Regions from separate parts of the Homo sapiens genome. Here region 1 is linked to region 2. The links come from fine-mapping of genetic effects on gene expression. A gene starts in region 2. The other region holds a variant in brackets. All regions are shown on one strand. Distances are between the middles of the regions.

The links.
Region 1: its variant is fine-mapped to the expression of NRP2 in monocytes after interferon gamma (Fairfax 2014, PIP 0.95). The same link has a PIP of 0.9 or more in monocytes after LPS.

What each region holds. Positions count from the first base shown.
Region 1 is chr2:205,739,610-205,751,292 of GRCh38, forward strand. NRP2 (neuropilin 2) reads left to right here. Exons shown (of 17, transcript NM_003872.3): 8 at 910-1,054; 9 at 3,594-3,943; 10 at 6,137-6,281; 11 at 10,116-10,232. Among named protein-coding and RNA genes, the nearest start is that of NRP2, 63 kb to the left of the region's middle. RefSeq lists enhancers at 7,028-7,579, 8,546-9,169, 9,170-9,793, 9,794-10,416. The variant T/G (reference allele first, on the strand shown) is at 6,169.
Region 2 is chr2:205,677,355-205,689,037 of GRCh38, forward strand. It overlaps NRP2 (neuropilin 2), which reads left to right and starts at 5,147. Exons shown (of 17, transcript NM_003872.3): 1 at 5,147-6,009. The coding sequence starts at 5,937. RefSeq lists enhancers at 1,061-2,260, 7,142-7,772 and a silencer at 4,548-4,667.

The sequences.
Region 1 (11,683 bases), 62 kb after region 2:
GGTTAGTTGGTTTTTCCCTCTACCCTTATTCAGGAAAACCAAGGGAAACTCACATATACTTTGCTCTAGTTACTTTTTTTTTTTTTTTTTTTTGAGCAGAGAGCACAAAAAAGCATAAGGTCCATATGGCAGTTATTGATCTGGGCCATCTGGAAAGCCAGGACTTGCTCCCACCATGTAGGATCAGAAGCTGTTCCAAAAAGCCTTCCCTCCCATAAGAGATGTATTGGTCAGATGGGGACAGGGATGGATTTCATTACAGGGCAGGACTACAGTGAGAGGAAGCTGGAGCAGGACTCTGAAGGACTGTCTGCAACCCTGACCCTGCCACAAAGATCAGAGAGAACCAAGAAAGTGTTGATTGACACAGGGCCATTGTAGGTAGAGGGTGCCCCTCATCATCTTGTCCGCTCATGGGTGGGATGGCATCAAGTAACTAACAAAAACAACCGTGAAGCACTTTGCAATTAGAAAATGCTCTGCAAATATTCCTAGGTGCCTGCAACATGAGGAAGAGGGAGTGTCAAGTTCAAGCTAGTGAGTGAGGTCTGGTAGCCCTAAAAGATGATATTTTTACTTCATTTTAAACAGATATTCTACTTTTCTCTTTCTTCCTTAGCTTCTCAAGTGTTTTCCTTCTTCTGCCTGCTCTCAGCCTGGAGGCAAAATTTTCCTTCCCTCTAAAAGTTTCTGGGAAGACCACTGATAATTTTCAAGTAGAACAGTGTGAGAAATTAATTTTTTTTACAGTGTTTCTTTAAAAAGCCCAAAACAACATACCCACTGATTATTTTTAAGCTTGAGGGAAAGAAAATTTGACAGAACTTTCCCATCCCCTTCAAAGACTGCTCAAGTGGCTGAACTACAAACAGGGGTTTCAATAACATGGTTTTGCATCTTACGCTACAGGTATTTCAAGCCAACAACGATGCAACTGAGGTGGTTCTGAACAAGCTCCACGCTCCACTGCTGACAAGGTTTGTTAGAATCCGCCCTCAGACCTGGCACTCAGGTATCGCCCTCCGGCTGGAGCTCTTCGGCTGCCGGGTCACAGGTGAGGTGGGGGCTCCAATGAGGTTGGGGTGCTGATTGAGCCCTAGGCTCTGCTCCCTTTCAACTCTCTGCAAACAGCATGACTGCACCACATGACCTTCCCAGAAAGACTGGCTCAAGGACTCAAGTCCTACCAGAGTTTGTCTTTTCATTCATTCATTCAGTATACATTTATTAAGCATCTACGATTTCTATTAATAGCTAACATTTATGGAATGCTAACTAGGTACAGATGCCATTCTAAGCACCTAAGATGTAACATATTTTATTATCCTCATAAGGACTCCATGGGTATTATTCTCCTCACTTTACAGATGAGGAAACCAAGACTTAAAGAGCTAGGTCACTCACCAGTAAGTGGTAGAGCCATGGTTTGAATCTAGGCAGTTCCAGTCCAAAGCCCTTGCTTTCAAATAACACTCTCTGCTGCCTCAACCGGGGGCCAAGAGCTGTGCATGGTGCTGTGGACACAAAGGTGGGCACAACAGACTGTTCTGTGTGGGCATATGGACAAGTTGGGCAGACATACTGATAAACTCATAAATAAATATAAAATCAAAACTATGATCAATGTCTGGACATAGAGGCTTATGGTCCTTGGAAGTACATCGTAGGGGATTTGACCCAGCCTAGGAGCTCAAGGAAGACTTCTTTGAGGAGGTGATGATTGAGGTGAGGTTAGAAGGCAAATAACAGACATTACCTGGTGAAGAAGGGAGGGAAGGTGCACCAGGCAATGGTCACAGCTTTCTCAATGGCACGGTGGCAAGAGGGACCAAAAGAGGAAGTGAGGAGCATGGACACAGCTTGTGGGCTGAAACCCAAGGCATGTAGATTGGAGAAGACCAGAGTGGGAGTTGGGACATTATAGGAGGCAATGCAGGGGGTGCAGATGGGAGATGATGATGGCTGGATTAGCCCCAGAAATTTATGGACAGACCAATCCCCTTTATCTTGTGGGCTCAGCCCAGGGCAGGCAAGTTGCCTCTTTGACCTGGAAGTGTCTTCAGTGTACATCCATCCACGTGCCTTTCCCCTAATCATTCCAGCTCTGACAGGGAGTGCTCCAAGGTCTGACCCTGTTTGAGGTTTCTAGTTAAAACACCTTGTGTTTGTACAGTCTCTGCATCTCCACATGCCTTTCTTGTTTATCATCTTGCCTACACTTTCTAACAACCCTGTGAGGTAAGGTGGGCCAGGGACTGATAAGGAAACCAAGACTCAAAGAGGCTAAATAGCTTGCCCAAAGTCATTCAACTAGGAGGTGACAGAGCCAGGATCTGAACCCACGTTTTCTCAATTCAAATTCTCTGCTCTTACCACATTTACACAAAGACCCATTTTCTTCTAATGGGATCAGTTTATGCTAATCCTGTCTAGGGGACTATTTTCTGTCCCTTCCCTGTTGCTGTTCCAGGATAATCAGCAAAGATTTAGGTAGAGGTCATTCTCTGGAAGATTGAAAGGAGAGAACCAGTGATTTTGAAGAAGGGGAACAACGTGGAGGATCTTTTTTATCCATAGCTCAGTTTGCAAGTATGAAATGCACATTGACTATAGACCCTGCCTTGCCTGACATCATTTATTCATGCATTCTCCACTCAATCATTTGTTCCACACATCTGATGTGCCAGGCACACACTGGGAATGGGACATAGAGACAGGAACAAAATAGATGGGGTCTCTGACATCGTAGAACTTTCAGGCTACTGAGCAAGATAGATAATAAACAAATGCAAGTACTGGATAAACTAGAATGTGCACATGAAGGAAAAGAACAGGGTGCTCTGAGGGAAACCAATTTAGTGAGGATTGAAAATTTGGGAACAGCTTTTCTGTGGATATGACACTTGAGCTTGGGGGTAAGAAAATGTTAGTCTGGGGGTGACTGAAGGGAAAAGCATTTGGGGTAATGGGAACAGCATGTGGGAAGGATCCAAGGCAGTAAAGAGCAGTTATTTGGGAAGTAAAGACCTGATACTGATGCCAGGAAGGTTTCCTTCTACTTGGCAAAACAATTACTAGGAAATAATTCAATGTTTAGCTCAGTTCCCCTGTTCTCAGTGTCCCTGATAGGGTCAGTGGGGACTAGTGTCATCGACAGGGATGTGCAGACACACATTCTGAGAGTCCTTGGTTAGAGCTGTAAGCACAAATAGTTAATGGCCATTGGATACTTAAATATGCCAGGCACCATCCTGTGAGCTCTTAGTAACTAACAGAATCCTTGCAACAGCCCTCAAGAGGTAGGCACCTCTATTAGCTCCCCTTTAGATCTAAGGAAACTGAGGCAAAGAGCAATTAAATAATTTGCCCAAGGCCCTCTGACTAGTAAGTGGCAGAGTGAACATGAACACAGGCAGTCTAGCTCTGAGTCCAGGCTCTTAACCACAGTGCTGTACACATTCACCATGCAAAGAAATTAGTGCTGACTTAGTATTTGACAGTTGGGCTCTTTTGCAGCTCCCTTCTTATAGCGGGTGGTCCCTGGTTAGCAGGTGTCAGCCATGACCTCTTGTATCTTCCTCTCCTCTCTGCAGATGCTCCCTGCTCCAACATGCTGGGGATGCTCTCAGGCCTCATTGCAGACTCCCAGATCTCCGCCTCTTCCACCCAGGAATACCTCTGGAGCCCCAGTGCAGCCCGCCTGGTTAGCAGCCGCTCGGGCTGGTTCCCTCGAATCCCTCAGGCCCAGCCCGGTGAGGAGTGGCTTCAGGTAGATCTGGGAACACCCAAGACAGTGAAAGGTGTCATCATCCAGGGAGCCCGCGGAGGAGACAGTATCACTGCTGTGGAAGCCAGAGCATTTGTGCGCAAGTTCAAAGTCTCCTACAGCCTAAACGGCAAGGACTGGGAATACATTCAGGACCCCAGGACCCAGCAGCCAAAGGTAGGCTGTTCTTGGAGGCCTCTGTAACGTTACCCTCAACAGGGAGGCTAAGTGTGGTACAGGGAGTTGAGACTGATGATGTCCCATCTAAACAGTCGTCATCCAACTCCTGAAATCCAATAAAACAAATATCGTTTGAGAGATTACTTTGTGCCAGGCACTGTGCTAAATACCTTATTTCTGACTCTTTTGTTTGTTTGTTTGTTTGTTTTTGAGATGGAGTCTCTGTCACCCAGGCTGGAGTGCAGTGGCCTGTTCTCGGCTCACTGCAACCTCCGCCTCCAGGGTTCAAGCGATTCTCCAGCCTCAGCCTCCTGAGTGGCTGGGATTACAGGTGCCCGCCACCACACCTAGCTAATTTTTGTATTTCTGGTAGAGATGGGGTTTCACCGTATTGGTCAGGCTGGTCTCGAACTCCTGACCTCAAGTGATCCACTTGCCTTGGCCTCTCAAAGTGCTGGGATTATAGGCATGAACCACCGCGCCCGGCCTGGACTCTTTTTTAATCGTTACAACATCTGTGCAAAGTAGATCTTTTTGTCACTCCCATTTTAGAGATGATAAACTGACACTTGATATCATGCCCAGGGTCACACAGTTCACCTGTGATAGAGCCGATTCAGAAACCGGAAGTCTGACTCCAAAGTCCAGATGCCTAACCCCTACTGAACACTGCCTTTTTATAAAGTTCAACACTCTTTATACACTCTTTCAGATAAAGTTTCCTTGAAATTGGCCAGACATCTAAAGGGGATGTGGTTTTTGGAGGCCAAGCTATAGAAACTAGAGGATGACTTCCAAAAATAACGATGTTTTTCTGAATGTCGCTGCATTCCTTTGTATTCTCCTAGTTTTGACTGCTTAGATCTTTCCGGCCTCTCAGACTGAGGCAAGGGAGAAGCAAGAGAAACTCACCCCGAGCCAGAAGCTCAGGCCAGTACAGCTTACTCCCCTGCCACCAGAGTGAAGGTCAGCCTTCAACACAGACACAAGGAGCCCCAGAAGGGGAGGAGACGTCATACCTCTGTCCCTCCCCAGATCAGTCTCCTGGCAGGCCAGGCTCTCTGATTCTTATCTCTAGTTACCCCTTGTTTTTCTCAAAAGAACAGGTCCCTAAAAAAGGAGGGAGTTTGCATGTCTCGGGGCCACCTTTGCTAAGCAAATGTCTCCATTCTGAATACAGAGGCAAGAGTTGGGTTGGAGGTTTTGCGATGCTGAGGTAAACTCCCAGCTCTCAACTCCAGAGGCTTAGAAAGGCTCAGGGCTTGGTAACTGGAACCTTGCATCGATGGAGCAGAAGTTGGACCGCAGGCTTCCCCATGGAGAGCTGAGCCTGGTTTTTCTTGGGAAAGAAGTTGATCTTTGCCATTGTGGGAGACAGCCCTATCCGAGACAGTGCTTCTGGTTCAGAATTGTGGACGCAGGGCATCCTGAAAACTGGAGCGGTCCTGCTGAATTTCTGGGGGCTAATCAGCTGCAGGCCCTGGCCACCCACTCCTGTCCTTCCCCCGGATGAGTGTCTCCAAGTGTACTCTAGGCTGGTCCTCCAAAGCAGCCCCCTGCTCCCCGCATCATCAGTTTTATGTACTGGGGCTCCATGTGAGGTTTCTTTTGACAGGAGTGCTTTCCCTAAACAAAGGTTTGGGAAACAGTCTAAGACTATCGATGTGTGACCAGAAGACAGTGTCATTGGCCTAGGGGTCATTTTCCCGTAAGGTTCTCAGTGAGCTAGGAACTATCAGTCAGCTTGGGTTACCTCAATGGAGGCTTTCACACATTAGAAAAAGAAGTGTTCCTTTCCCTGTAGACCAGGAATTCAGAACGGTCAAAGATCGCCCAAACTGCCTTCCCCCCTCTCTAGCCAAAGTCAGCTGAAAACGCAGTTGGAGCCAAATTCTTCCCCAGATACTCCATTTTAGTCACCAGGTAAAAGACACAACCTGGAAATTGCCACCTTTGTTTACTTCCTATTTTCCATAATTCTGGGTCCATAACCACCTTCCAAATGAATAAAATCCTTGGTCTGAAAATGAAGCTCGCGTGGATCAGAATGTCCCAGTGACCAGGAATCAACTAGGAAGCTGCCTTCCTAGCAGGACGTGCGGGGCAGGGAGGAGAAGGGGAAGGAAAGGGAAGAAGGTGATAGGGACTGGGTCCCACACCAGAAGGGCTGAGTGGCCTCTCTCCCTGCAGCTGTTCGAAGGGAACATGCACTATGACACCCC[T/G]GACATCCGAAGGTTTGACCCCATTCCGGCACAGTATGTGCGGGTATACCCGGAGAGGTGGTCGCCGGCGGGGATTGGGATGCGGCTGGAGGTGCTGGGCTGTGACTGGACAGGTAAGATGACATTTCCTCCTCTTTGCATCTCACCCACATGGTCCTCTGACCCTGGCATCCCACGAGGCCCTGGGAGGGCTGTGGAGGGGGCAGCCATCCCAGGAGCTGGAAATGCTGCAGACCCCTGCCATGTTCTCCTGCCTCAGACCACGGGTACTGCAGCCTCTGGACTTGGGACAGTTTCTCAAGGGATGTACTTTGTCTTTTTTAAGGGATCATTTCAGTTCTCCAACCCGAGTCTCTCAAAAACAAATCATAACCACACACCACCCACCCAAATTCAATTAGACCCTGGCTCTTCAGGCCAGAGGGCTGTGGCTGTTGATTTAGGGAAGAAAAAAACCCCTCATGATAATAAAGTAATCGGTTTATGTCTGAATCTGGCCTCCAGATGTCAGTGGCTAAGAGACTTCATTTTCATTTCGGAGCCACATCTGTAAAAGGCATTTATTTGCTCAGGAGGGACCCTGTTGCAGGGAGCTGATGGGGGCAGGACTCCTTCTCATTGTCCTGCTCATTCCTGCCAGGTGGCCCAGGCCTTGGGGAACACCTCTCATCATTCCAAATGAGGGTGAGGCCCACGGAGGGTGCCCAGCCTTCCTGGTTTCCGAGGGAGGGCCCTGCCCTTCTGAGTCAGGCCCTACCTTCCTTTCCTTGGGTCGCCAGCCCTCCTCCCTCAGCAGAGCTGGCACCAGATCTTACCCAGAGCTCACTCACTGCCTGCCAAAAGGAGTTTGTGGGAGCCACTGGGGCTCAGGGACTGAGCCTGATGCCAGCAGGAGCAGCCACCAGCCTGAGCTATCCTGCCCTCCTCCGCCAGAGCCCCAGGTATCCCCATTTTCCTGTCTGTGCCGTACCTGTCACGGGCTCAGCCGGCAGGATGGCATGAGGGATTAATAAGGGCATGTCGGAGAAGTGCTTTTGGCTCCCAGGGAGAAAAATGCTGCCTGTATGCTGGCTACAGCAGCGCAGAGGAGCCCTGTTGAGGCACACGGGCTGGGAATTGGGCCCAAATTAGCCTCCTCACTTTTGAATTGAAGGCAGCCCCAGCGAACACATCTTCATAGGAAGACACTTAACTCCCCATTACCTGGGGATGAGGCCAAAGTTCCCTGCAGCCTGCTAAACGTGTGTCACCCGTCCTCTCACAGGTGCAGAAAACCTCCCCCCGATACAAGCTGGCTTCATTTATGTGCCCTGGAATCAGGGGCTCAGCGCTGTAGGGGATCCAGGAGCTTGTAAGCCAGTGGCTTTCACACACTTCTGCCCATGATACACAATTTAAAATAATTTTCCTTCACAACCCGCTTCACTTATAAGCACTCACACACAGTGGTGTATACGGGGTACAGTGTATGGGTAAGTGCTTGGACTCTGGAGACAGATTGCCAAGTTCAAGTCCTGCCCCTGCCATTGGCTGGCTGCATAACCTCAGAAAAGTTAGTCTCTCAGCGCCTTGGTTATCTTAGCTGAAAAATGGAGAGGACAATAGTCTGTCTACCCCATAGGGTCATTGTGAGGATTAAATGAATGAATGGATGTGAAATACTTAGACTACTGCCTGCACCCAGCAAACCTGTTATGATAAATAACTGTAACTGAAACAAAAGGTTCCCAAAGCAATGGTCATCTTAACCATGGAAGTGCACTCCAAAATATTATAGTCGGTATGTTTTAAAAGCTGGTCATGACCTATTCGACGGATTCCACAACCCAATGATGAGAGTGATGCGTGGTTTGGGAAATATCACAGACCTGGGCCAATTCCTCTTTCATAGACAAGGAAACAGCCCCAGAAGGTAGAAGTCACTTGCCAGAGGTCACTCAGCTGGATGAAGTCCACCTCATTCTTCCCCCCATCCCTTGCCCTTCAGTGCCATGCCCTCCCAGTCTGGCCAGTGGGACAGTTGCTAATGACCTCTTTCCTTCATTGCTCCCCAATCCCAACATGCCCCAAATTACACTGGTGATGGTCAGTGACAGGTTTCTTATTTCAAAGCCCTGCCTGGCCATTCCTTGGAAGATCAGAGTTGAGGAGCGTTCCCCTCTGCCCAGCCTCCTTTCCTTTGAAGTCTCTGACATCTGGTTTCAATTTCAGGGGTAGCGTTGCTGTTTGATGGGCAGTTACCTTGGAGCACCCAGTACAAACATAGTACAAACAGTATAAACACCGAGGCCTCGGTGCCCGCCGTTCCTCCACTTTCATTTACACGCCCTGCCCTCCGGTGCCTCATTGGCCCCTGGGTTTAACATTCTTTACACCAATCAGCTGACCCATTTTGCTACCTAACATTTCCAGAAACTGTTCTCCATAGGTCACGTGGCTATGTTTGCTTTTCGAATTTCCATCTGTTTCTCACACTCATCTTCGGTTCACTTCTTCATCCCTATCCCAAAGGATAACAGGAAAAATAATGGGCTGGGCTGAGCTGCTGCAGCTAAATACTTTGACAGGGCTGCTTCACCTGTTAGTTGGTTTGTGTTTCAAATAATTATGTTTTGCCTTACTGCCCCATAGTTTGCTTTACAATCGAGTTTCTATGACACAGTGACAAACTTGAACTTACAAATTAGGACACTTCGAGGTTATTTGCTATTTACTGTGAGCAAAAGGCAGACACAGCAAAGGGAAGTATGAAAGGTTATGTGCGTAGTATTTAATAGCAGAAAGGTGGGAAGCCGACCGTGAAAAAGCTATTCAGCGTATTTAGCAATTTCCTCCAGCTCCTGGCTTTATTAAATGGTATCCTGAAGGGTGCCTGACAAAGGCGCCTAATCACATACAGTAGTGCAAAGGAGCATGTATAGAAATGAGAGGGACAAGGCACTGGCATCCTGTTGGAGGACAGCTCTGGGATGAAGACACCACCCCAAAACACATGGACTTGAGCACCAGTTTCCAGAACCCCTTTCACCCCACCCAGGGCCTGACTCATAGCTCCATTCACTCCCTCAATAGTTGCTGAATGAATGACGGGCATGAGCAAATAAGCAAATGAATAGGTGAATGAATCACCTAGAGCTGAGGTCAAAACCCCCTGCCTGCAGCCAGGTTTGGCCTAGCCAGGGTTCATTGTGTGCTACTTAGTATAACATTTTTAATAAGTTGCCAACATGTAGAGTCTGGAGATTTTACTTAGGGATTTTTGCTTTCTTGTTGGGGGAAGGAAAGGGGGAAAGATTTGGAAGACCTGGCCTGGCCACACTGGGCCACCTCCCCTCCAGGCCCCAGTCTGCTGGAGCCAGTCATGGAGGCCACCTTTAAACCAGGCATGTAAGATCCCAGCTTTCACCACCTCCTCTCTCTCCAACCTTCCCCTGCCCTCACAACCACGTCTGCTTTCCTCACTTACAGTAGGTGTTTGGATCCAGGAAACACTTGAACTTGCCACACCCTGACCTAAAGACATAGCCCCAAATCACTTTCACCATGTAGGGTCTGAGCCTCTTTAAATCCATATTCCCGTCCATCCAGTTTTGTGCAAACATGAGCCAGAGTGTGCTTTGGTCCTTCCTTGGAGTCAGCGTCGCCTGTAGCCCCCTCCATTATTGTCTCGTGGCCTTTTGTGCTAAACTCGGGGCCTCTGCTGTGGAGTAAAGAATGTGGGTTTGTGTCCCTACCTCTGTCACTGCTGGTTCTGCAACCCAGGACCATTCTCATTCTACTATGGTGATGCCCCTGACTTCGTTGACAGCACACAGACATGACTTCAGAGTTCCGTGCACATGTGTGCATCTTCTTTCCCTTCTCTAGAGATGTTTGGCATCTTCCTCCTGCTGGGTTGCAACACAGGCTGCTACAGCATTCTCTTATCTTCCTTTGCCCTTACACAGACTCCAAGCCCACGGTAGAGACGCTGGGACCCACTGTGAAGAGCGAAGAGACAACCACCCCCTACCCCACCGAAGAGGAGGCCACAGAGTGTGGGGAGAACTGCAGCTTTGAGGATGGTAAGCACAAATTGCCTCCAGATGGCATGGGTGCGGACTAGTCAGAGTGGGAGCTGGCCTGTGGCTGGACAGGGACCTAGTGGTCCCCCAGATCAGAGATCCAGGGGATCTCAAAGAAGTGGTAAGAGAGGTGGGGGCACTTAGGGGTTTGGGGCAGTGGCTGTTTACAACCAATGTAGAAGCATTTGGATAGTGTAACAACCAGTACAGCCCTACTGGTGTGAACCCACTAGACATCAGGTGAGACAAGGATGACTCCAAAGAGAACTCCTCTTTTGAGGAGTCTCATTTGTTGAGCCCTCACTATCTTGCTTGTCTGCTAAAGGAGAACCATTCTTATCCTTAGAATTCACAGCTCTGATAGTTTTTCCTGTTAAGCTGTGTGTGTATGCTACAGCGAAGTGAAGATACGGCAGTCATCTGGGTGATGGAGCGCGATAGTTGGGTTAATCCAGCAGTTACCTGTGACTTAATTGTGTTTCCCTGTGTCTTTCACCGCCACCAATTTGAGAAAGTATAACAGTGATGATTCTATAAGATAGTGCACTGTATCCTCTATAACTGGAGTGCAGATCAGAGACAAAGGCGGAAATGTAAAAAGGCATCTTCAACCGTTCCCTCAAAACTCAGGGGCTCCGCATTTCTGGATGGGTCCCATCACATGGGAAATTCTTTTCATTTATCTTCGGAGTATATCCAAGTTAGATAAAAACAATAATTGGCAGAATCCAAAAGTCAGTCACATTTTAAATCATACTGCTAAAGTCACCAAGTATGAGGACATTTATAAGAAACCACAAATTTTGGAACACCTGGCATTTTGGCTAGAATGTTAAGCTTGACAGCCTCAACTTACAGTAAATTACTGATCATTATTAAATGTTCATTAAACAAAATGAGGGAAGATTGGCAAAGAGACTAGAGAAGTGATGGAGACATAAAGATATAGGTAGATGGCAAAATCTGTGGAACCTGCAAGCACAGCCGTTTGACAGTTAGAGGAACTACACTGATGGAGTGGATGACTCCAGAAAATGGCTACAAAGAAGAATGGGAGGAAAGCCAAGAATAAATGCTGAAGTTATGTGACTGAAAAAGCAATAATTTAATGCATATGCTTTGGGGATTGTGCTTTCATATTATTGTGTGGGTGGGGGACACTGTTGGTCGGGGTTAGTTGAATACAGAATTCTGACATTTTAATGAACTTGTTTTTGTTTTATGGAGAGAAGAAGGAGACTTGGAGAATCTTCCAAGACATGTTTCAGATAGTTTGAGAGCCAAAAGTGGAATGCATAGGGAGTTAACATACGATATTGGATTTACAGAGTTAGCTTGTTGGGGGACCTGGAGTGGGGGTTCTAGCTAAATGACAATCAAAGGAAAAATTAAGGGTTCTGCTGCAAAATTTCAGAAGTTTATTTTTAATATGATTTTCCCGTTTCTAGTGG
Region 2 (11,683 bases):
GATAAGGTTAAAAATCATTCAAGTCAACCCATCATTCTGTAGGTGAGAAAAGTGGTTCCAAATTGGTTAACAGAATTTTCAAGGACACCCAAGTAGAGACTGAAGGTCCAGCTGCCCTGTCCTCAAGGCTTCTGCTGCCCCCACCTGCTTCTCCGCGGTGGTCTCCACTGACGAGTGGAGTTGAGGCCCGAAGCTGGGAGAGCATCATAAAGACCCTGACTCCTGGTGAGTGCTCTGGGAAAGTCATCCAAGAGAGCGTAGAAAGAACATGGGATGATAGACAATAATATGAATATAAGCTAGCTCTTCTCTTCCTTAACCAAACAGACAGTGAGCATTTTCAAATGCTGCCTTGGTAATCAGAACTTCTGCTGATACTGGGGTTCCTTTCTTGGCAAACAAGTATGGTAACCACAGAGATTGATAAGGGTGTGAATTTCTATGGGTTTCTATGGGAATTATTCAGCTCTGGTCTTTTGATTCTGAGGCTGAGTTGTCCAACATGGTAGCTGGTAAGCACATGCGGCAATTTACATTTAAATGAATAAAATTAAATACAACCTACAGTTCAGTGACTCACTCACACTAGCCACATTTCCAGTGCGCAGTAGCCATGTGAACAGCACAGAGACCACCGTCCTTGCAGAAGATTTAATGGAGAGTGCTGTTTTAAGGGAGAGGGTTGACTGGGTCTTTTTGATACGCTTATTGCCTCAAAGGTAGAAAAATTAATGTAGCATAGGAAGATCAGACTCATGCTAAAGCCAGGCAGACTGGAAGAAGCAATAGGGCTTCTTTAGGTTCTTTTTCCAAGGATTCCAGGGAGGTCTGAATGAATTTTGCACATTTTGCTGCTGCTTTTTAAATTTTGTTTCATAAGGGCCCCTCCTACCAGATCCAGTGTTTGTGTCTGAGGAAGAAATGAGATATACACCCAGTATGGAGTGAAGGAGATTTCAATACTTTATGGAAATCTGTAAGGATTCCAGAAACCCACCAAATAGAATATACTAGAAATATCAATTTAGAATAGAAATGTCAAATAGAAACTACTGGGCAATATTCAAGTGTGCTGGAAAAAAAAAAAGTTGATTGTTTAAAAGGCGAGTAAGAAAAAAAAAAAAACCCTTAGTGACCAGAAACCTGGACTTTGACATCAAACAAAAGAGAGAATAATAAATTAGGACCTATTCCATTTTAACTGAAGCTTTGCTTCTGAGACAGATGTAGCTAAACCTTAACTAGGGCAGTGTGTTAAATTACAGATTAAGATGCAATTATGCCTTAGATCTTTCCTTTTCAGGGTGAGAGCTTATTGATGTTAGGGCTCCGATAAGGGGAAGCACCATGTGACACGTGATATCTATTGTGGAAGCATGAAACTTCTGGAGCTTTTAGATCCTGTGTTCCCGAGAGGCAAGACCTAAATCTCTGTCTTGCTCGCATACCTCTGGCATAGTCATGCATCCATGAACATTTCGTAAGTACAGTGGGATGAACACAGATGGAAAAGCATACCTGAAACGAACCTCTAGTAACCACCAATGGTTGAGTGGGCTGGTGATGAAAGGTCTGGCTCCAGCTCATAAACCCATCAGCCGCTACTTTGAACATGTCCCTGCAAAGCTCCTGCCTGCATGAGGCGAGGCTTTTGGTGTTTTCAAATTGGCTCTCTGCAGTTGCTGCTAAAGGTCACAGGTAAATCTGGGAATTCCACCACTGCAGCATTTTCGAGAACTTGTTCTTGGTGGTTTTTCCAAGAAACCTGAAACATCTGCCCCATATTGAAAAGTACCCAGAGAGGAAATGTGAAGGAATGCTTGTCCAGGTTTCCTTCAACGGAAGAGCATTTATGGAAGGCTGTGTGTAAATAGAACACATCAGATCAGAAGTTCCCAACTACTGGTCTGTGGAGGCTTTGCATCAGAATCACCTAAGATGTGTGTTAAAAATACAGATTCCCAAAGACCACTCCAGACCCAAGGAATTTCACCTGCAGGAAAATGGTTCCCAGGAATCAGAATTTTTAACACTTCCTCCAGGTGATGCTGATATACCCTAAGGTTTGGGACTGTCTAGCTGGGAACACTTAACTTTCCACAGGGGTGTGGCTTGGTAACAGCTTTCTCTTAGCATCATTTACCAACCTGTTTCATGTTCCCCCACATCCCTTCCCGTCAAAGGAATGGAATGTGGAGTGGATTATCTAGTATTATTTTACAACTAAGGATAATGACATGAAACATCCTAGGTGAGTCAGTGATGTGGCCAGGAATCTCAGCTTCGCTAATTAGCTGTTATCTAGTCAGCTCAGTGTTTTTGATCACAAACCCGATTTTTGACACTGGCCTTTAGGTAGGCAGGCTTCCCTATGGGCCAGGGATGTGGACTCACAAAATACTGAAAAGCACGGTGCCTACCTAGCTCTTTACCACTATACCTCTGGTGGAAACCAGACCAACTGCAGTCAAACCCTGAGATCCCAGTCTAGAGGGAAACAAGACTGGCAGGTCTGAGCCAGTCCCAGTGTGAAGAATTTCCCTAAAGATTTGTTTTCCATGTGGCACATGTGAGATTTGTGTTTAGTTCCCAAGAGTCCTTGGAAGTCTTAGGTTAAAACAATTCTAAGCCCTCTCTGGGCCGGTGGGGTCTTGTTCAGAGTAGGCTGGGGAGAGATCGGCCTCACTCTGAATCTTCCCTGGTCTGATAAAGCACTTTGAACTCCTTGGAATTAAAAGCACCACCAGAAGTGTGACCCTGGGTGGTGTTACCATTATTTATTGAGTGCTGCCCCCTAGAGGATTGAAAAATGGTCTGGCCGCTTGAGTCCCCAGGGATGGAAACCTGAGACTCACTCTCTGTCCAACTGCAGGAAATGAGGCCTTCACTCAAGGGGAGTGGGAAGTCTTGCAGCCCTGGTACAGAGGACTCCCAGGAAGTAAGTGAGCGTCCCCTGTAGGACACCGCTGAAAAATGAAAAGTTACAGTGTAGGCAACCAGGCCAGGAACAAAACTGATTCTTACTTTTCTCTACTCTGGAAGCAGCCTGATGGGGACCTTCATCCCTGAGACCCCAAGACCAGAAGTCCAGGGTTGTCATTCTTATGGTTCTCCAGTGGGCTTAGGTTTACCTTTTCTCTCTTCTTTCCCCCTTTCACAGTGCCCTTCACCTAAACCCTGGCTACATTATTCTCACAAACAGGAGTCTCCCACATTGGGCACTGGCAAAAATGGTTTGGCATGCCTGGTGAGTGGTGGGGAGAGGTGATATTAAATGGCCCTCTCTATTCAGGGACTGTCACTACAGATAGCGTTCTTTGTCCTTAGATTAGCATCTTGGCAATGACATAAACCGGGATCTCTGCTTAAGGTTAATAATCCAAACTGCTCTTTTACTTTGTTAAATATTTAAGGCTTGGAGTCATTCTTTACAATTGAGCTTTAAAGAGGAGAAATGTAAATCTGGAGTTTTTAATAATGTGGATGTGCTCTCAAGCCTAGAAAGGAAGGAAGAAGGAAGGAAAGGAGGGAGGAAGAGGAAGGAGGGAGGCAAAGAGGGAATGAAAGGTAGCATTTAGGCTAGCCAAGAGACATGCTCCCTGGAAGAACTCAGAGGCCTCTGTGCTGTGCCTTTCCCAACCAGGCATCTGAGATTAACAGTGTGATACTCAGCCTGTGGATTTCCACTCTAAAATCCCGCGCCACCCCCCAACACAGCTTGGCTCAACTATTTGCAAATCACTTCTGATTCAATTTTGTTTTGGTTATCTCAGTGTAAATAACAGTTAAGTGGGAGTTACAGATTTTTCAAACACTAAAAGTGATAAAGCTAATGGGCAAGTCCAGATAAGGAGGGAAACCACCCAGAAGAATCCACAAGTACAAGCCAAGAAGAAAATGGGTAGTCAGGTGTGTGTTTCTCGTCACCGAAACTGTATTTTTCTTAATCTACAGAAAATTTTACTTTCTTAATTTAAAAAAAATCTTAATCTGTAAATATTTTTCTGAATTTTCTTATTTTTCATATACCTCTTTTGTGGCAGAAAAGGTGTACATGTGCAGGGTGTAATTTAGGCTGTTTCTGTTGCAGTCTTTATGATAATGTAGTAATAGGTGTCTGGTGAAGCAAGACAGTTTGGAATCCACAAAGCCATCCTCAGAAACAAAGATACAAGTGTTTCCCCAACTGTTAGCTTGCAGTTCCCTCTAAACAGTTTTCACGCCTCCATTTAAAAATAGTTGGCATAATGATGTTTTCTTTCTCTAGGCTTTGTGACCACGTTTCCATGGGGGAAAATGTGAATAGACGTAGTTACAGTAGCATTTGGATGAGACGCCTTCAAGCACCTATACTTTTTCGGGGGAACTTGATGGAATCCAATTTAATTACCTGAAGAAATTATTTGCTGAAGAAAGTCTTTCCTCTTTTTAGGGTAGTTACAGTTAAAGGCGCAGGGGTAACGAAATCCTAACCCAGAGAGGAGCAGAGCATGTTTGGGACATAACAAAGGATCTGAGTAGTAAACGCAGCGAGTGTTTGGGGTTTTATTCAGACCGGGCTGACGGTGTGTGTCGCCGCCACGCACCGCTGCCTGTTCGAACGCATGGCTGAGCTGCCGACCGGCTCGCTACCCCAAACACCGTACGCCACCCAACTCCTCTTGTAACGCCATCGCGCGTGGCATTGTGTTGGGTTCTGCGTGTGTGGCATCGGAGTCGTGGAATTTAGGGGGAACAAGGCTTTTCCCCCCGTCCCCCCGGGGTCTCCCTTGGGTGGGGGCGACACGGCCAAGGCGGCGCGCCCTGGGGGTGCCCGGGGGCGCTTCTTCCCCAGGGCGTTACGCACCGGCGGCCCGGCGCGGAGGTGCGCGGGGGCGATCGGGAGATGCGGGGCGGGCGAGGGGTGGTGGGATGGGCGCCGCCTTAACTTCGATCCTGCGGCGGCCCGAGAGAAGCCGTCGCCGCCCCGCCCGAGCTGGGTGCCGCGGCACTCTGCTCTGCGCCGCGCGTCTCCGCGGCTGCCTCTTTAATCAGGAACACAGAAGGGGCGGGCCCTGAGCCGGCGCGTAATCGGATAGCTCTGCCGCGGCTCTGACATCCACATGCTGCTCGGCCTGAAAAGGCAGTGGGGAGCCGGAGGGGAGGCAGAGATCGCGAGCGAGGCACCAGCCTGCAGCCGGCCCCCAGCACATCCTCAGCCGCACAGACACTCGGCGAGGTGGAGGTGAGGGCGGGCGCCAGCGAACTCGGAGAGGGGCTCGCTCACTCCCAGGCGATCCCAGCCGCCACCGCCGCCGCACCAGCAGCAGCAACAGCAGCAGCAGCTTCCTTCCTCAGACTCCCCTCGAGAGGCTGGCCAAGCGGGTGTAGCCGTTGGGGGAGGCTCCCGCCGGGGGAACCCGGCGAGGACAAGAGCAGGGCGGCCGCCTTCCACTCGGGCTGTCCGGCGGCGGCTGCCTCCGCCCGTGTGTCCGTCAAGGGTGCCGCGGGATGTGTGTCAGTTTACGCCTCTGAGATCACACAGCTGCCTGGGGGCCGTGTGATGCCCAAGGCAAGTCTTGGTTTTAATTATTATTATTATCATTATTGTTACGCTTGGCTTTCGGGAAATACTCGTGATATTTGTAGGATAAAGGAAATGACACTTTGAGGAACTGGAGAGAACATATATGCGTTTTGTTTTTAAGAGGAAAACCGTGTTCTCTTCCCGGCTTGTTCCCTCTTTGCTGATTTCAGGAGCTACTCTCCTCCTGGTGAGGTGGAAATTCCAGCAAGAATAGAGGTGAAGACAAGCCACCAGGACTCAGGAGGGAAACGCTGACCATTAGAAACCTCTGCATAAGACGTTGTAAGGAGGAAAATAAAAGAGAGAAAAACACAAAGATTTAAACAAGAAACCTACGAACCCAGCTCTGGAAAGAGCCACCTTCTCCAAAATGGATATGTTTCCTCTCACCTGGGTTTTCTTAGCCCTCTACTTTTCAAGACACCAAGTGAGAGGCCAACCAGGTAAGCCACTGAAAGTTTTTCTATTTATTGCAACATGGTTTCCCCTTTAAAAGTGACCGCTAAAGCAGGAAGGCCACGCAGAACGGCACAGAAGAAGGCTCCCTCAGTACTCAATAATTTAAAGAGAGATCCCAGCCGGCCCTTCCTACACCACCACGGCTGCTAAAACCCAACTTTCCTCTCCTGCTAGGAGTGTGTGTGTGTGTGTGTGTGTGTGTGTGTGAGTGTGTTTTGAAACAGAATTTGGCGGTGTTCATATGTCACATATGGACTGAATCAAAGGTTTAAAAATACTACAAAGCCTTTGCATTACAGTTTTTGGGAATTTTTTTTCCCTGTCTTGAAGCAGAACACATCTCCCTTGAGTTTCTCCAACTAGCCAGTGAAATATAAATCATTTGCATTCCCTCCACTTAGCTACATTGAGCAATGTTAACTGAAGGGCTTGGGAAAGACAAGAGTTTAGTTTTGGTTTTCAGATGCTGTAGATTCTTTGGAGAATGACTGGTTATGCTTCAGAATCATAAGGCTCAGGCTGGTGGAGCAAGTTGGCTTGTGGCTGAGATAGGGGCTTGGGGTTGGGTGCTGCTGGCAACCAAGACGGTTGGTCTCTTCTCTCTTCATCCATGTGTTGTCTGGGAAAGTAAATCGTACGTTCTTTTAGAAATTATTATTAGCTAAAACAAATTGCAGGCCCTCGAAGGTCTCTCACTCTTGTGAAGTGGTTAGAAACTTTTGAGTGGAATTTGTTCTCAACCACTGCCAAAAAGGGTGTGTGGACAGGCTGCTGTGGAGATAAGCATTTCGAGGCCCAGAACAGTCTGGGGACCGCATTTGTGGGGAGCGGCAAGGGGTATGCTCTGGAAAGGGGAATCCATGGGGAATGCAGTGGGGTTTGTGCTTCCTTCTCGGACCACTCTCTAGAGTGAGCCTCCCTACCCCTCTGAGAACAGTGTCTGGAATCTAACAACAAAACTCTTAGCAGCTGCTACAGGTGATTGGAGATGGAGAAACCATCTATGGAGGAAATGGGTGAAAGAAAGGCGAAAAAGCCTTCCTGAAGTGCCCTCACCCAAGGCACTTGCAAGGCGATGGCGGCAGTGGTAGAGCTAACTCTGCAGCCTCCTTGGCATCCCCAGAACATCAGCTAGTGGATCCTAGCCTTGCATCTGGTACTGTCACCCTTCCTTCTCCTCACGCCCCCCACCAGCACACACACCACTTTAAGCTTGGGCATTTATTTGAGGGGGGAAGAAAATTCAGGAATGCCTTTGCCACCCAGATCCGCACGTTTGCAGCTCTTTCTTTGCCATAAGTGGTCTTCAGGGCAGCTGCAAATCCTGCCAAAGGGATGGGTGGGGGTCCCACTTGGGGAGATTTTCTGGGCCTCCGCCGTTCCCCCTTGCCTTATTTCTAAATTCCCAGCTTGAAGCGGAATTAAATTACCACTCACAGACCTGGATGCTGCGTAAATTATGTATGTTTGTGTGATTCGCTGTGTGTGTGTGCACACGCGCGCGCGCCGTGAGGATGCCCACAGTATATTATGTATTCAGACACGGACTCCAGTAGGCCCCAGCGCGCGAGCGCGCACACACTGGCACTCACACTGGCGCGCACACACATGCAACTTCAGGTTCCGTGTGCTGTGCGGAGCGGGAGGGGTCGTGAAGACTCAGGGGCCATCTCCTACCCCAGATGTTCGCACATCTGTCCCCGAGCGCTGCTTGGAGTGTGTGTACGTGTGTGCGCGACACCCGCTTGGACCCACTCCCGCTCTGCCACCTGCCTGCCGCGCTCTCTGCAGAACCCCCTCCCATCCCAATCCCCAGCAGTGCTGCGTCACTTCCAGAGAAGCCCAGAGGCGCGGAGTTCGGGGCAACCTCGGACCCGGGGTGGGATCTCAGGGTGGGATTCGAAGCTGGGACCTGCCAGGGACCTCCAGCTCCCCAAAATGCGATCTCAAGCCGTGAGCTGCTCAGGCTTTCAGGCGGAGCAAAGCACTGGCACCCTGGGAGCCGGCAGCGGGTGGCCAGGGCGAGGCCAAGCCACATACCTCTGACTCACCCGGTGTGCGCCGGCCGGGAAGGGGGCCTGGTTCAGCCGCCGCCGCCGGCGACGAGAACCAATTCTGGGAAGGAGCAAGATGGGGCAGAAGGTGCGCGCGGGGGAGCAACTGAGCAAATAACACGGCGGTCGCGGCGCGCGGCACCTTGGGCTGGCGCGTGGCTGGGAGGCCGCATGGGCGACGCGCACCAGGCTGCCCCTCTCCTCACTGCGCCGCCTCGCCAGACCGCAGTGCAGCCGCTAGCCTGCCTCCCTCCCTGCCCCGGGCGCCCCCGCCAGTCCCCTGCGCTCCGCTCTGCGCGGCAGGCTCGCCGCGACCCCTAGAGAGACGGCTTTGAGTGGCGGGAGGCCGAGGCCGGCTGGCTTGGGAATCCAAGCGCTGGCCCAACTAGGTGAGAGGAAACTGGGGTGGGATTTCGGAGAGGAGGGCGGAGAGAGGCGGGAAGGAACCAGCTTGAGCCCCAGGAATGCGCGCAACTTGCACAGCCTCTAGAAGCGCCGCGCGCCCAGCGCCCGCCGGTGCGCAGGAACAGGTGAAGAGCACGCGGCGTGCGGCCATCCACGTGGTGGGGACGTGATAGCCCCTCAGCTCTCCTCCTAGCCCTCCCTCCCCTTCCCCGCCCCCCAGCGCCTTCTCTAACGCCGCATCGATTTGTTTGGGCTACGCAGCAGAAACAGAGCCCAGCGATCCATAAACATTCTATTAAGCAAAAATATTCCCAGCGAAAGCAAAACCGAGGCTGAAGCCTCCGCGAAGTTGGCCGCCTCCAACTACTCCATGCTTGTGCCCTCCTCCTCCTCCTCCTCCTAAGGACACCCCCAGGGAAAAGCCTGCGGCATTTCTTCAACGCTGCCCTATGCCGGAAAGTTAGGTCTCGGCTGCAGCGCTGGTCTCTGGAGAAGCCTCTGCCTGCAGCCGCCGGCGAGTTCCCGCCTCCCCTCCCCAGCCGCCTCGCTCTTTGCTTTTCCACGTGAGAAAAAGAAATGTTCACGGCCGATGCTTCATTTTCACTGATTGATTTCTTTTTAATATCAACACAAGTTAATGGAGGCAAGGCGCGCTCTGATTGAAGGGCTGCCCCCGCCCTTCGACTCGGGCTGGCTGTGCCGGGGGTCTTTCCCACCGGGTCGCAGGCGTCCAGCGGCTGGGTGGCGGGCGCCGGTAGCCCTAGTGTTTGGAGGTGGGGGAGGGATTTGGAATAGACTTGTCGCCCCTCTGGGAATCATCTGGGTTGGGGAACCTTCGGGAATCAGCTTTCCAGACCAAGTTTTAGGGGATCTTGCCCATATGCGTTGCGGCTTCTGCGGCTCCGGCTGAATTTCTTCTAAAAGATAGGAGATCCACGCTCAGGTTTATTGGCGTGTGCTCCCTGCTCGGCTCCCCTCCCTCCACTTCCTGTTCTTTCGGTTTCAGACAGAGAGGAGAGCCCCCTGGCGCTAGCCATTCCCGATCAGCGCCCACTACGAACGTCCCCTTTGCTAGAGTTAATCATGATCTGCGGGGGGACTGGGTTTTGCTCAGAAAATCATTCAAGTCCTGACAATGGGTTTCTTCAAATGGTGGCAACTCCCAGGCCTAATGTCCCCACCTCCGGGACACATCGCTTGGGGCCAAAAGAACCCAGACCCCATAACCATCTACCCCTCCCCTCCTCGTCTGGAGAGCTTTGATCTATGCTTGGGTTTTAACGCCATTGCCATGGACACGCGCAGATTCTCGGTCAATTCACCCTTCCGTCTGGACTGGATGATCAGATAAGAGGTGTAAATTGGCTGTGGGAGACAGGTCTGGGTTCAGACAAATCCTGAAAGAGAAGCAATGACGGTCTAGGCGCCGGATAAGGGTTTGAAGTGTTTCTTTTAGCCTGTCTCCCCAAAATGTGAGATGGCCATTGGCGAGCATAATAATTTGCAAGTAAACTGTAAACTCCTAGATTTTACGCAGACGGCCTGCTCTGGGCTCTAGGGATTGGTCTCATGCCCACATTAAATGGGTACCCAGTAAACATTTTTCCCCCGTGATCAGCTCCTGGAGGTAGGGAAGCTGTGGCCAGTTGCCAGCAGAGCACACAGTGCAAGACAGTGGCAAGAGGAGCACTCCCCAAAGGGCCCCGGGCAGGCCCCTACTCGTCCAAGCGGTGCCTGGTGGAATTGTGAATGCGCCAGTGCACATCAGGTTTGGAGTTTTATGTCATCCCATAGAGCCCTCAGACATTAAGCTACGGAGCACTCAACTGGCAAAATGAAAGATTGGAAGGCTGCAGTGACTGGAACCCAGGCTACCCAGACAGGACTCCTGCTGTCTACCAAATGGCTCTGATCCCCTGCTGTTGAATGTATCAAGTCCACGTTCTGCAGCAGAAAGGCCAGTTCCTATCTTCCAGGCATAGAAAAAGCTAGGAATCCAAATGCCAATTCATATGCAGTGAGGCACGAATACAAATGACAGTGAGGGAGGGGTCTGGGGTCAGTGAGGAGAGACACCAGGGACCAGATGATTCTGGGGACCCTGGTGTTTTTCATTTCACTCAAGTCTTCCCTAAAGCAATCAGGAAAATGAACTGACTCAGGATGACCTGAGTGTAAGACAATTCTGAGTTGACAGAATTCAAGAGCCAGGTAAAGAGGTTTCCAAATATATTCTCCAAAGGTCCAGTTTGGAAAGACTTTAGGAACTTGAGCTGAGATCTTCCTTTCTTAAAAGATAGAGCAAAAGAAGAATATCTTTTTAATTTCTTGAACTGACAAGAAAGGACTTGAAAAGTGTCATCTGGGCAATGGCTTGTAGTGTTATTAACATATTTGAGGTATTTTATTATCTGACCATCACTTGCAACTGGATAATCTTTGAGATACCTTCCTTGAGTGGCAGATAAGTATATTGATCACCAGAAGTTAGTCTTTGTACTGTTCCTTCCAGGTAAGGACTTGGCTGTTTGCTGATTTTTGTTTTTTAATTAACCCATTTCTGGAAGATGCTGCAGAAGTTTGTCCTGGAGAGCTACAGTATTTTTCAAAGCTTTATCTGCCTTGATGAGAAATGGTCAGAGGCTTAATGGTTTCATTGCCTAACAGGATTCAGTGGAGTAGGATTCCAGGACACAGTGGCCTTGTATCATGGCTGGCCCTCCAGGAGAAAGCATCTTCTAAAGGTTTAGGAAGCTGTCAAGTTTAGATAAGGCTGAGCTCCGATCCTCTGGGACCTTGGTTGTATTAATAAGGAGAAATTAATTTTTAACCACTGGGAACATTGCCAAATTATGTGACCTTTGGCAGACCAGCTGTGCTATAAAAATAAATCCCCCATTTCTGAAAATGCTACTCCTATCCAGTAGAACAATAACAATGTGGCATTTAGGATAGAGAAGAGTAGGATTGAGAAGAAAGGAGAGAAATAGGAGTTGGCAAAAAACAAAAAAACAAAACAAAACAAAAAAAACAAAAAAACCCTTCGATGTTGTGATACATGGTTTCAGACCTGAACTTCCTATCCATCACCCGCCCTCCCCGGCCCCATGCCTAGGGTTTCCAGAACACAGGAAAGAGGGCCAGGATGACAAGGAGCTGAGTGCCTGTGTGTACAGGGAGTGGAGAAGGTGTTAAGTGC